Homo sapiens: one gene and its partners. The protein of the gene in region 1 purifies or fractionates together with the protein of each later gene. This does not show direct contact. Each region holds a gene or a part of one and is shown in the gene's direction. Other genes may lie near its edges.

Region 1 (3,655 bases):
GGCAAGGAGTACCTATAGAACCCCGGAGGAGGGTGAGGAGCAGAGCTGGGTGAGTTCTTTTCTTCTTTGGAAATTTTAACATGTACAACTTTAGGCATGTTCTTTAACTTCTTTTGGCTCAGTTTATTCATCTGTGAGGTTTAGATGAACAAGTGCATGTGGAATGCTTAGAGTAGTGCCTGGCACATAATCAGTGCTATTCAAGAGTTTGCTGCTGATATCGTAGAGTCACTGCTTGATCCTGGGGTCAGAGTAGCTAAGGGGACAGAGGGAAATTTCTGCGCTTTTTCTGTGGAAGGAATAAATACTCAGCAGCTGCCTATAATAAAGTGTTAGTAGAAATCAATTGAATTAGGAGGAATTTCTCATAATAGAAGAGCCTTTATTTTTTAGTCCCCCTTGTCTTTATTTTTTTAGTTAGGGAAAAGGCAAGTGGCTCAGTTCAGATTTAATGAGGGCAGTTATTCTTACTTACTACCATGCTTTCAGTGTTCACCCTAACCTGTTCTAACAATAAATAACTGCTTGTTTATTGGGGCTTAGGGACAGGGAATAATTGCAGGAAAAATCTCTACTATGTTCTTCTGAAGAAAGGAAATATTTTCTCGTAGGAAAATTTGATGAAAAAATTCACATTTAAATAAAGACCTTTTTTTGTTTTTTAAAAATACATACAGTATTTGTTAAGAGCCAAAATACTTTATTAAGTGCCTTTATTTGTTTTTTATTAAAAATTTAATATGTGCTTTTTGAAATGTAAACAATGAAGAATGAAGAGTTAAAAAAATGAGTCTGCTTTGAACCTATTCCCTAATCCTTGTCTCTTTTCAGAGAAAATGTCTATTTTTTGTATGTTCTTTCCAGACCTTTTTCTACATGTATGTATATACAATTTTTTTTTAAAAACCAAATGGCATATATTAGGCACATTATGTGTTATATACAATGTTCTCTGTTCTCTGACTTTTTCCTTCTCATTGTGTGTCACTATATATAGATTTACTTCTTTATTTTTAGAAGACATGTAATATTCTCAAGGATGAATATGGTGTAATTCATTTAACTGTTTCCCTGTCGATGAATATCTAGATTATTTCCAATATTTTGTTATAGTTTATTTCAACAAATGTATTGACTGTCAGGCAGTGCTTGTGAACGGATCACAAAAATTCCTGCTCCCATGCAGTTGCCTTTTGGCAGTAGACCGGCAACAAATAAATATATGTTAGTTGATATTGAGGAATGTAAGGTTGGGGAGGAGATAGGGAGTGTGGGGGAGGGGTGTGCATTTTAAAATGGGGTGGTTAAGAGTGAGATACCAATAGATGACATTTGAGTGGAGATCTGGTGAAGGTAACATAATGAGCTCTGAAGGTATTGGTAAGGGAGGAAGAGAGGAATAGAGTATTCTAGGAAGGAGAGAAGCCCAAAGGGAGGTAGGCATGTGCCTGATGTCGTGGGGGAAGAACAATGTGGCTGGAATGAAATAAGCAAGGGAGAGTGGGAGATGAAGTCACAGAAGGTGACGGGCAGTCAGGGCAGATTGTGTTGAGCTTTTTGAACCCACTGTAAGGATTTTTAAAAGATAAATAGTTATTATTTTTTGATTTTAAAAATAGAGTTGGGGTCTTGCTGTGTTGCCCAAGTTGGTCTTGAACTCCTAGGCTCAAACAGTCCTTCCATCTTGACCTCCCAGAGTGCTTGGATTACAGGCATAAGCCACTGCACCCAGCCTATAAATATGTATTTTAATTATAGATATGGGGTCTTGCCATGTTGCCCAGGTTGGTCTCGAACTCCTGGGCTCAAGCTGTCCTCCTGCCTTGGCCTCCCAAAGTGCTGGATTTACAGGCATGAGCCACCAGGCCGGGCCCACTGTAAGGATTTTTGTCTTATGTCGAATGAGGTGGCAAGCCTTTGGAAGTTTCTGAGCAGAAGCATGGCATAATCTTATTTACATTTTGAATGGTCTCTCTGTATTCTTGATAATAGACTTTGGCCAGAAGCAAGAAGGCTATTTAGGAGGGCATTCAGGCATGGTTTGGACCAGGATAGTGGTTTGGTGGTTTGGACCAGGATAGTAGCAGTAGAGGTGGTAGGACATGGCTAGATTCTGGGTGTGTATTAAAGATGAAGTGAGAGAGAGTAGTCAAGGATCACTCTGAAATTTTGGGACTGAACAATTGGAAAGTTGAAGTTGCCGTGAAATGAAATGATGAAAACTGCAGTAGGCAAGGTTAGGAATTTGGCTTTGGGCACGTTCTGTTTGAGAATTTATTAGACATCCAACCAGAGATATTGAGTATGCAGCTGGAAATGTAAATATGAAGTTCAATGGAGAGGTCAGGTTTGGAGAAACAAATGTTGGAGTCTTCAGTTTACTAAAGCAATTTAAAACCCTCAGTTTACCTGGGAGTAAATTAGAGAAGAGAGTCAGGAACAGCCTCTGGGCACTTCAAACTTGGTTAAGGGGCTGAGGATGTGAGAAGGATGCATCGAAGAGACCAAGAAAGGAGCCAGTGAGATAGAAAGGAAACGGAGAAAACCAAGAGAAGGCAGTCAACAGTGTCACTCAAGGAGAACTGAGAATTGACCATTGAATTTAACCATGTGGTAGTGTGGGTGACCTTGCCAAGTGCAATTTTGAGAGAAAAGTAAGGTATGTTTGTAGGAGATTTGAGAAAGGATGGAAGGAAAGGAATTAGAGACTGTTAGTATAAGCATCTCTTTTGAGGAGTTTGTTGTAAAAGAGAGAAAATGGGGCCTTAGCTGGGGGGTGATATGAAGTCAAGAAATTTTTTTTTTTTTTGTTTCTTTCTTAGATGGAGAAATAAAACATTTAAACTTATGGGTAATAGTCCAGCAGACGGACAGTTTGATACATGACAAACTGGAGTAAGTTTAGAGACAAGTTTGAGGAGGACATTTTAATTTATAAGCACATGTGCAAGGATTTTTATAGGCTAGATTCTTAAAAGGATTTCCTGAGTCAAAGGGTATGTGCATTTTAAAAACCTGTACCAATTTATATTCCACTTTCAGTGTATACCCTTTCTAACACTGAACATTCTTAATCTTTAAAATTATTGCCAATCTGATAGGTGATGATATCTTCATTATTTTAATTTGTTTTACTGCTTTCTAGGAACTGTTTATTTAGTCTATCTAATTCTTTGTGATATTTTGTCAGATACTTTCTCCTGGCTGTCTCTTGCCTTTTAACTTTGCTTATGGTATCCTTTTACCATGTACGACTTTTCAAAAATGTTTTTATGCAGTTAAGTTTGTCAGCCATTTCCTATAGCATTTGGGTTTCATTTAGATGATGTAAATATTTGATATAATCTAATATGTTTATACGTTTACATTTTTAATTCATTTGGAGTTTATTTTTGTGTATGTTATGAAAAAGGTTTTCCATCTTTCTCTGTATTCTTAAACAGCTAAATACCATAGGAGTTAACTGTTTCTTGAAGGTTTGAAAGAAATTACCTGTAAAATCTAGGACTAGAACCTCTTTGTAGGGTAGGTCTTTGACTACTGTGTAATTCTTTTTCTGTGGTTAATGATCTGTATGGTTTATGTACTTCTTTTTAGTTTTGGTAGTTGATATCTTCCCAAGAACATCATTGTTTTCATTTACATTTTCAAATTT
Region 2 (3,655 bases), about 39 Mb from region 1:
CGTGCTGTAGAGCTAAGATCCTGCACTATTAAGAAGATATTCTCTTTTCTATGGTATTGGCTTGTTTTACAGTGAAAGAATGGATTTCTCAGAACTTTATGCTAAAAACATATAGGCTGGTGAGCCGTAATTTAAAAAAACACGGAAGAGAAGTTCTGAAATCATAATAAATACTCAGCATTATAAACTGATGTAGTGCTTTTAAGTTAGGGTCATTGTCTTTTTGTTGGGAAGACATGAGCTGTTAACATCACTTTTGAAATGAAAGAAGTCTTGTGGCATTTGCCACTTGAGTGAGACTTTTGTCTCTGAAGTCACTGAATCACTGAGCCAGCCCTTGACCAGTCAGTGGGGCAACTTCTCTCTTGTGTGCTCTGAGCTGCTCTACTAGTTAAAGCTATTTGTTGACTCAAATTGAAGTTAATGCACGTTTATAAAGGTAAAAACTTTTGAGGCTCTTTTCTTGACAACTAAGCTAGAATTTGTGGAAAAATTAGGAGAGATAAAGGAGAGTTGGCTGCTTAGATATGGACTTACGGATTCATAGATTTTTGGGTATGAATCTCTTTGGTTGGGGAGTGAAGGCTTCGCTTAGGTTGGACCTGTCAGGAGGGGCGGCCTGTTTCTGAGAAGTGGAAACAGCATTGAGGCTTCTTGGACCTGTTAGGAGAGTACCAAGAACATACTAGGTTTTCCTATTTGCTGCCTTTTTTCCATAGGGGTGGGAGACGGGGGACATAGAATTACGAGTTTCTCTTCCCATTGGAGGGATTTCTTTTTGAAGTAGTGAGAAGTAAATCACCCAATAGCTTCTCTCTTCCCCCCTTTTAAAATGTCTTTTGTGGGCTGGTGGGCATTTGTATTTGTTCATTAACGATGTTTTAGTATTTGCAATACTAAATAAAAACATTGTTTTTCTTTTTTTCCAGGAAAGTCCCCAGAGGAAAAAAAGGAAATCAGAAGCTGTAGGAATGAGTAACCAGACTGACTTATTGGCTCTTGGCACAGCAGTTGGTAGCATTTTATTATACAGCACAGTAAAAGGAGAGTTACACAGTAAATTAATAGTAAGTGTGTGTATATTTTATTTAAAAGTGATGTGACAGGGAAGCTGATTATTAGAGATTATTAAAAAAAAAACACTTCAAGGTATGTGATGGGATCTGTGCAGTAGGGACAGTTTTCAGTCTCATCTACGTTTAAATAACTGAATAGTAATATTTGATAAAAGCTATAATAGTTAACAGCAGTCCTTATTATGGGTCAGAGTATGAAGACTTATTGACTAGGTTTAAAATAAGGAAGGGTTACAGGAACTCTAAGGAATCATAGATAGCAGCTGTGGAAAGCAGCTCCCCACCTCTTGACCTAGGGGAATAAAGGAGGCAGTTGAAATTACTGCTAACACTGAGATCTTTTAGGGGCAAGTGTTGTGCTGCTGTTGCTGTCTCTTGAAGAGTGGCCCCATGGGCATGGGATCGAGACTTCAAACTGAGAAGGAGGCTCCAGCTGCCTGGTGCTAGTGTCTCTGATGGAGATGATGAGATTGGTTCTCCTAGGGTTGGATAAATTGGATATTGGGTTCAGCTGCTGCTGTTGGGCATTACCACTGTTGGGGTGATGCAAATAAAGAGACAGGAAGGAACAAGTCCCTTCTCTCTCCATCCTTGTCTCCCTCTAGCAGTTGCTATTGGTAGAACCTATGGATCGAGCTGGGAAATCAGAAATCAGGTTGCTGAGTCCCAGCATCACAGCAGAATATAAAGGATGGTTTGGCATTGGAAGACAGTAACCGAACTGGTCTAGTAGGTTCAGACAATATCTATTGCAGTGTGTTTTTGTTCGCTGGACTTCTGTATATAGGAGTGTTTTAAGTTTTTTGTTTTAAATAACATTTGTCTATAGGAAATTTGTAACTACATAAAGTTGAAAAGGAAAAAAATTTATACCTAAGTCTGTCGCCGAGAGGTCCTCTTAATAATTTGTATATTTCTTTGCTTTATACATACATTAAAAAAATATAGTTGGCTTTCTGTTCATCTAGTTTGTATCCTGATTTTTTTCATTAGATTACAACATAACTATCTTATATTTGTCAATAACTGGTTATAGAGATTTTTAGTGACTGCTTAAAATCCCAACAAGTGGGATAGTCCATTATGTTACTTAACTTGTTGACCATTTAGGGGTTTCCAGATTTTTAAATTGTTGTAAAACAATTTCTTTTTCTTACATGGATTCACAGAATTACTAACCTAAAATTAGTGAGCCAAAGGGTTGCTATATATGTAGTATAAAAATACTTTCTGGAATAATTTTTACTAATTTATGCTTAATATCAGTGATAGGAGATAAGTACTTTATCTCAGCAGTATCATTACCACTACTGAATAGCCCAACAAAACAGCAACAACGACAACAAAGAAACAGCTAATTTGGTAGAGGAATATTTTAATCTGATTTTAAGTTTGCATTTAGGAATGTATTACTTGTTTTTATATTAAGATTACAAAAATAATACTCAACTATAAATGAATTTTAAAGCATTCAGAGATCCATCTCAAGAAAGCATTCTTCCCTATATTCTTCCCCCCTCCTCCAAGTCGAGTGTGGTCCTCAGGTGAGCTCTTACACCTACTATAGGTAGGAGCCTATCCTTTAATTGGATAGGTTTTTTGTGTTCAGCAGGTACCTAGCATCTTGTGCAGTGTGATAGCTGCTCAGCTGCTGTGGCTGCTGGAGCCTAGAAGACTTATTTTTTTTTAAAGACAGAGTCTCACTCTGTCGCCCAGGCTAGAGTGCAGTAGTGCGGTCTCAGCTCACTGCAACCTCTGCCTCCTGGGTTCAAGTGATTTTCGTGCCTCAGCCTCCTGAGTAGCTGGGATTACAGACGTGCACCACCATAGCTGGCTCATTTTTGTATTTTTAGTAGAGATGGGGTTTTGTCATGTTGGCCATGCTGGTGTCGAACTCCTGGCCTCGTGTGATCTGCCTGCTTGGCCTCCTAAAGTGCTGGGGTTACAGGCATGAGCCACCATACCCAGCCTAGAACTCCTTTTTATATCATTTCACAACCTTACAAGATTGTAAATACATCTTCGACAGGGATGAATTTATCAAAAAGGAGTCAAGAGGGTCAGGGTGAGGGGTACTGGGATGGTATGGTAAGGTGGAAAAGGACCAGGCTTTGGAGCTAGTCTGTCCTGAGGTTGAATCCTACTAGTTGTATGATCATGTGTGAATAATTTAACTTCTCATCCCTTAAATGGGTATTAACAGCCTACCTTGCATGATTTTATTAAGACTTAAATGTAATAATGTATTGAAAGTGCCTGGCTTGTAAGTGGTATTTAGTAAATATTTGTTGAATGAGTAAGTGAACAAGTGAGTGAACACATCGCTAAATTGCTTTCCAAAAGGGTATGCTAGTTTACACTGCTGCTGGCAATAGTATTATGTAACCTCACCAGCATGGGCATCATAAGGCTAAACACATTGCTACAGGAACAGACTAAAAATGCCACTTTGTTTTGGTTTGTATTTCTTTGATTACTAACAAGGTTGAATATTTTGGTATATTTTCTAACTGAATTCTTTCTGTGGAATGTATCTGTTCATATCCTTTAGTTACTTGCGTGTATATAAGACTTAGTTC
Region 3 (3,655 bases), on another chromosome or scaffold:
TAAACATATCATATAACCCAAGAGCTTTTCATTTTAGTTTTTTCTAATCAGAGATACATACAGAAATTTGTATATAAGAATGTTCACTTCTGCATATTTATAACAGCAGAAGGTTGGAAACTAAATGTCTGAAACAGAAAAATTTTTAAATAAGTTGTGCTATTACTTTAGAATTGATTATTATGTGAGCATTAAAAATGTGAACACTCTGGAATAACATGGAAGAAATGGAAATAATATTAAATGAATAAAGAAAAGGTTGTAAAATGATATGAATGGCATGATTTTAGTCTTCTAATAGGAAAATAACCTGGATTATACATAAAGACTAGAGCAATAACAATGTCTGGGGATTATTTCTGGTTGGTGAGAATAAGGCTGGTGTTTATTCCCCTGTACTTTCCCCATGCTTTCCAAATTTTCTGTAAGGACTGTGTATTGCCTTTTTAATAATTAAGTCTCATTGTTTGTCAAGTTGGGCCATATATGGTAAAGAAAATTATTTTTCATCTGTATTATTTGATCCCTTTAGGACACAGATATTATTGTATGGGATGTGATCAATGAAAGTGGTCTGTACCGTCTAAAGGGGCACAAGGATGCCATCACACAAGCATTGTTTCTACGAGAAAAGAACCTGCTAGTTACTAGGTAAAGAAATAATGGTTTAATTTCCAGTTATTTTCTAGGAAGAGAGAATTTGCTTTATTCCTTACTCATTTCTCTCATGAGCAGTGTGCTCATGCTTATGCATTAGTTTTCTCTCCTGTTCTCCTGCATTCCTTCTTTCCATTTCTTCTAAGTAGTATCGTAGAGCTATCCAAAGCTATATTATTTTTAAAATCATTTTTCTAATTTGTCATTCTTTTTTCTTGATATCAGTTTTTCTGTGTTTCTTAGCCTTTTGAAACTCATTATAGAATGAGCTTTGTCTACCTTCTAGATCTCTAGAAAGCCAGGAATCAGAATATGGAGCAGAGGGAAGATATGAATACCAGGTGTTAAATTCGGCTTGCCTTTTGAGGAGAGATGTACTGTACTTCATAGGCCTTCTGAACACCTATTAGGATGAACCATTTGAAATTTTTATTTGTGTACATAAAAAATCATCAAATATCAACAATTTTATATTGTTCAACCTAATATAATAATGAATATTCCTAAAGAATGGCCACCTAGGAAAAGCTGGGATACCAAGGTTTGCCAGGCATTAATTAGAGGAACCATAGTAATGACTCAGAAAAAGCTGTGAGCACTAAATGCTTTACCAATGGTGGATTTGTTTCTGTGGGATAGGATACAGGTAAATTAGTGTCTTGTTCAGATAACACAGGTTCTGTAAGAGAATGATTCTATAGTTCTAATAGAAAAAATATATATTACAGCTTAGGGAATATAAAGGCAAAGAAATAACACTGTAAGGTGGGGTTATATGGGACGGACTTTGTAAATCAGGTTTTTGAGCGGTGTTTTTTTCCAGTTTGCTCATGAAGGAGGATTATATTAGATTTATGTAGTGAGGAGGTAGGGAAGAGGTGTTTGAGCAGGAGTAGTAGAGGCCATTGGCTGCGAGAGGTTATATTTAGGGGGTTAAGAACAAATAAATAGGAAATTTTGAGACTGCTGCCAATGAGCCTGACTTTGATTCTACAGGGAACATTGAGCTAGTGCAAATATTAAAAATTAAGGTTATCTGACAGTTGCACATTGGATGGGATGAGAGAACAGCAATGGACAAAGAGACCAAATGAGAAGCTGTTAAAATAATCCAGGTAGTAGGACTTAAGTTCAGGTTAGTGTACAGAAATGGACTAGAGGAGTTAATACTTAGAAACTTCACAGAGGAGGCATTTTCAGGACAAGAGACTAACTGGACAGGAAGACAAGGGAGTGGGAGCGGTCTAAGATGTTTCCATGGTAGACTGTCTGAGGGGAATGCCAGTGCTGTGATGATGGAAATGATAGGAGGAAGGCCTGATGGATCAAATTCTGTATTCTTTGGTACTCTGCATCTAAAGTCATTCTTGTGCTTATAGGTGGAACATTTTATTTTCTGCACAGGAATAACTACAAGGAAAGTTAGGATTCTTTGCTTTTCAAAAGTAAGATCAGAGAGAATCGGAGCTTTAGACATTATTGAAGCATATGTTCCTTTTAAAGCAACAGTGAGTTTTGGATCTCCCTATTCGTTGAATGAGTTTTCCTAAACAGGCTATATATTTTTTTCCTGTTTCTTCTTTTAGTGGGAAAGATACCATGGTGAAATGGTGGGACCTTGATACTCAGCACTGCTTTAAAACAATGGTTGGCCACCGGACTGAGGTAAGTGTAGGGTCATGGGCCCAGGGAAATAATGGGAAGGCAAAAGGGAAAAGGTGGTGGTCTTCTCTTCCCCTTTCATGGCTCTTTGTTTTTAGTGCACACAGTAATTATCATATGCCATCTTGAGGGACAGTGAGGCTGGTATGATGGAAGCAATGCCAGCCATTGGAGCAGATACTGCTGCTCTGACATGTAGTAAAAATTGGCCTTGCGTGGTTTTTAATTCCTGAGTTTCATCATTTCTAAATAATAAGTGTCCACTTTTATGAATGTAGGGAAGTTTAATGATATTATATGTGCAGCACCTAGCTTATTGACAGGTAAGCAGCACGTGGTAGCTGTTAAAATAGTTACTTGAACAGAGATCTATTCAGTTGAGTTCAGGGACTGTTTTTTATATATCTTTGCATCCTCAGTGCTTTATTCATATCAGGCATTCAGGAAGGTAATACCTAGAATTAATGACAAGAAGATTAAATTCTTTGTTGATTTGCAACAATATTATTTTCATTATTTAATTCCCGGATACTTGAAGCTGAAAGTTATGCAATGGACATTAGTGGGGCACCTTTTATTTGCTAGACACTGCTAAAAGCAAAGAAATAGAAGACTTAAAATCATCATTTGAGTGGATTCTAGTTAAGATTTATGCTGAACAGCCATTATCTTAATTTGATTATACGAGGTTAGAGACAAACTGCTAGTATCACAAAAGTAACAATTTCACCGCAGGCCATTTTTTTCTCTGTAAAAGTGAGACTTCTCTTAGTGCATTTTGAAAGGGTTGTCGATATGCCTTTTCTTTGCCTTTAAATTGCTAGACATTTTACTACGGTGTAACAGACTTTTGGAATGTCATATTATGCTACCTGGAATCTCTTGAAAATCGTATTACTCAAATCTTTTTATATTCTATAGGTATGGGGGTTGGTTCTGTTGTCAGAAGAAAAGCGACTCATCACTGGGGCCTCAGACAGTGAACTGAGGGTATGGGACATAGCTTATCTGCAAGAGGTAATTACTTCTTAAAATCATGGGCAATATGTTTAGAAGTTTCATAAGCACCTTGGATTTAGAATCAGATGTAATTATTCAGTACTTCACATCATATTAGAAGGAATTCTATCACACCAATAACCTGCAACACTTAAAAAAGCTTTTCTTCCTTATATGCTCATTATCCTTATTTATTTGAGCTCAGGTTAGCTTTAGGCTTACAGCTTCTGGTAATACTAATGTTTTAGTTTGTGGCACTCTTAATCAGATATTCTTGGACCTTTGGGTGTCCATGGATGGCCTTCAGAATATCTGTGAACCTTTCCCCTCAAATATA

What was found.
Region 2: the proteins of C1D (region 1) and WDR43 purify together in Homo sapiens (affinity purification with mass spectrometry; 2 studies listed by BioGRID and IntAct, with this or other methods). This does not show direct contact.
Region 3: the proteins of C1D (region 1) and WDR3 purify together in Homo sapiens (co-immunoprecipitation; one large-scale study listed by IntAct). This does not show direct contact.

Annotation. Positions count from the first base shown.
Region 1 is NC_000002.12:68,049,455-68,053,109, reverse strand, and holds part of C1D (nuclear nucleic acid-binding protein C1D), read left to right. Parts: exon of another isoform or gene 1-49; intron 50-3,655. UniProt on the Homo sapiens protein: Plays a role in the recruitment of the RNA exosome complex to pre-rRNA to mediate the 3'-5' end processing of the 5.8S rRNA; this function may include MPHOSPH6.
Region 2 is NC_000002.12:28,901,058-28,904,712, forward strand, and holds part of WDR43 (WD repeat-containing protein 43), read left to right. Parts: intron 1-929; coding exon 930-1,067; intron 1,068-3,655. UniProt on the Homo sapiens protein: Ribosome biogenesis factor that coordinates hyperactive transcription and ribogenesis. Part of the small subunit (SSU) processome, first precursor of the small eukaryotic ribosomal subunit.
Region 3 is NC_000001.11:117,936,237-117,939,891, forward strand, and holds part of WDR3 (WD repeat-containing protein 3), read left to right. Parts: intron 1-532; coding exon 533-651; intron 652-2,243; coding exon 2,244-2,322; intron 2,323-3,240; coding exon 3,241-3,336; intron 3,337-3,655. UniProt on the Homo sapiens protein: Part of the small subunit (SSU) processome, first precursor of the small eukaryotic ribosomal subunit.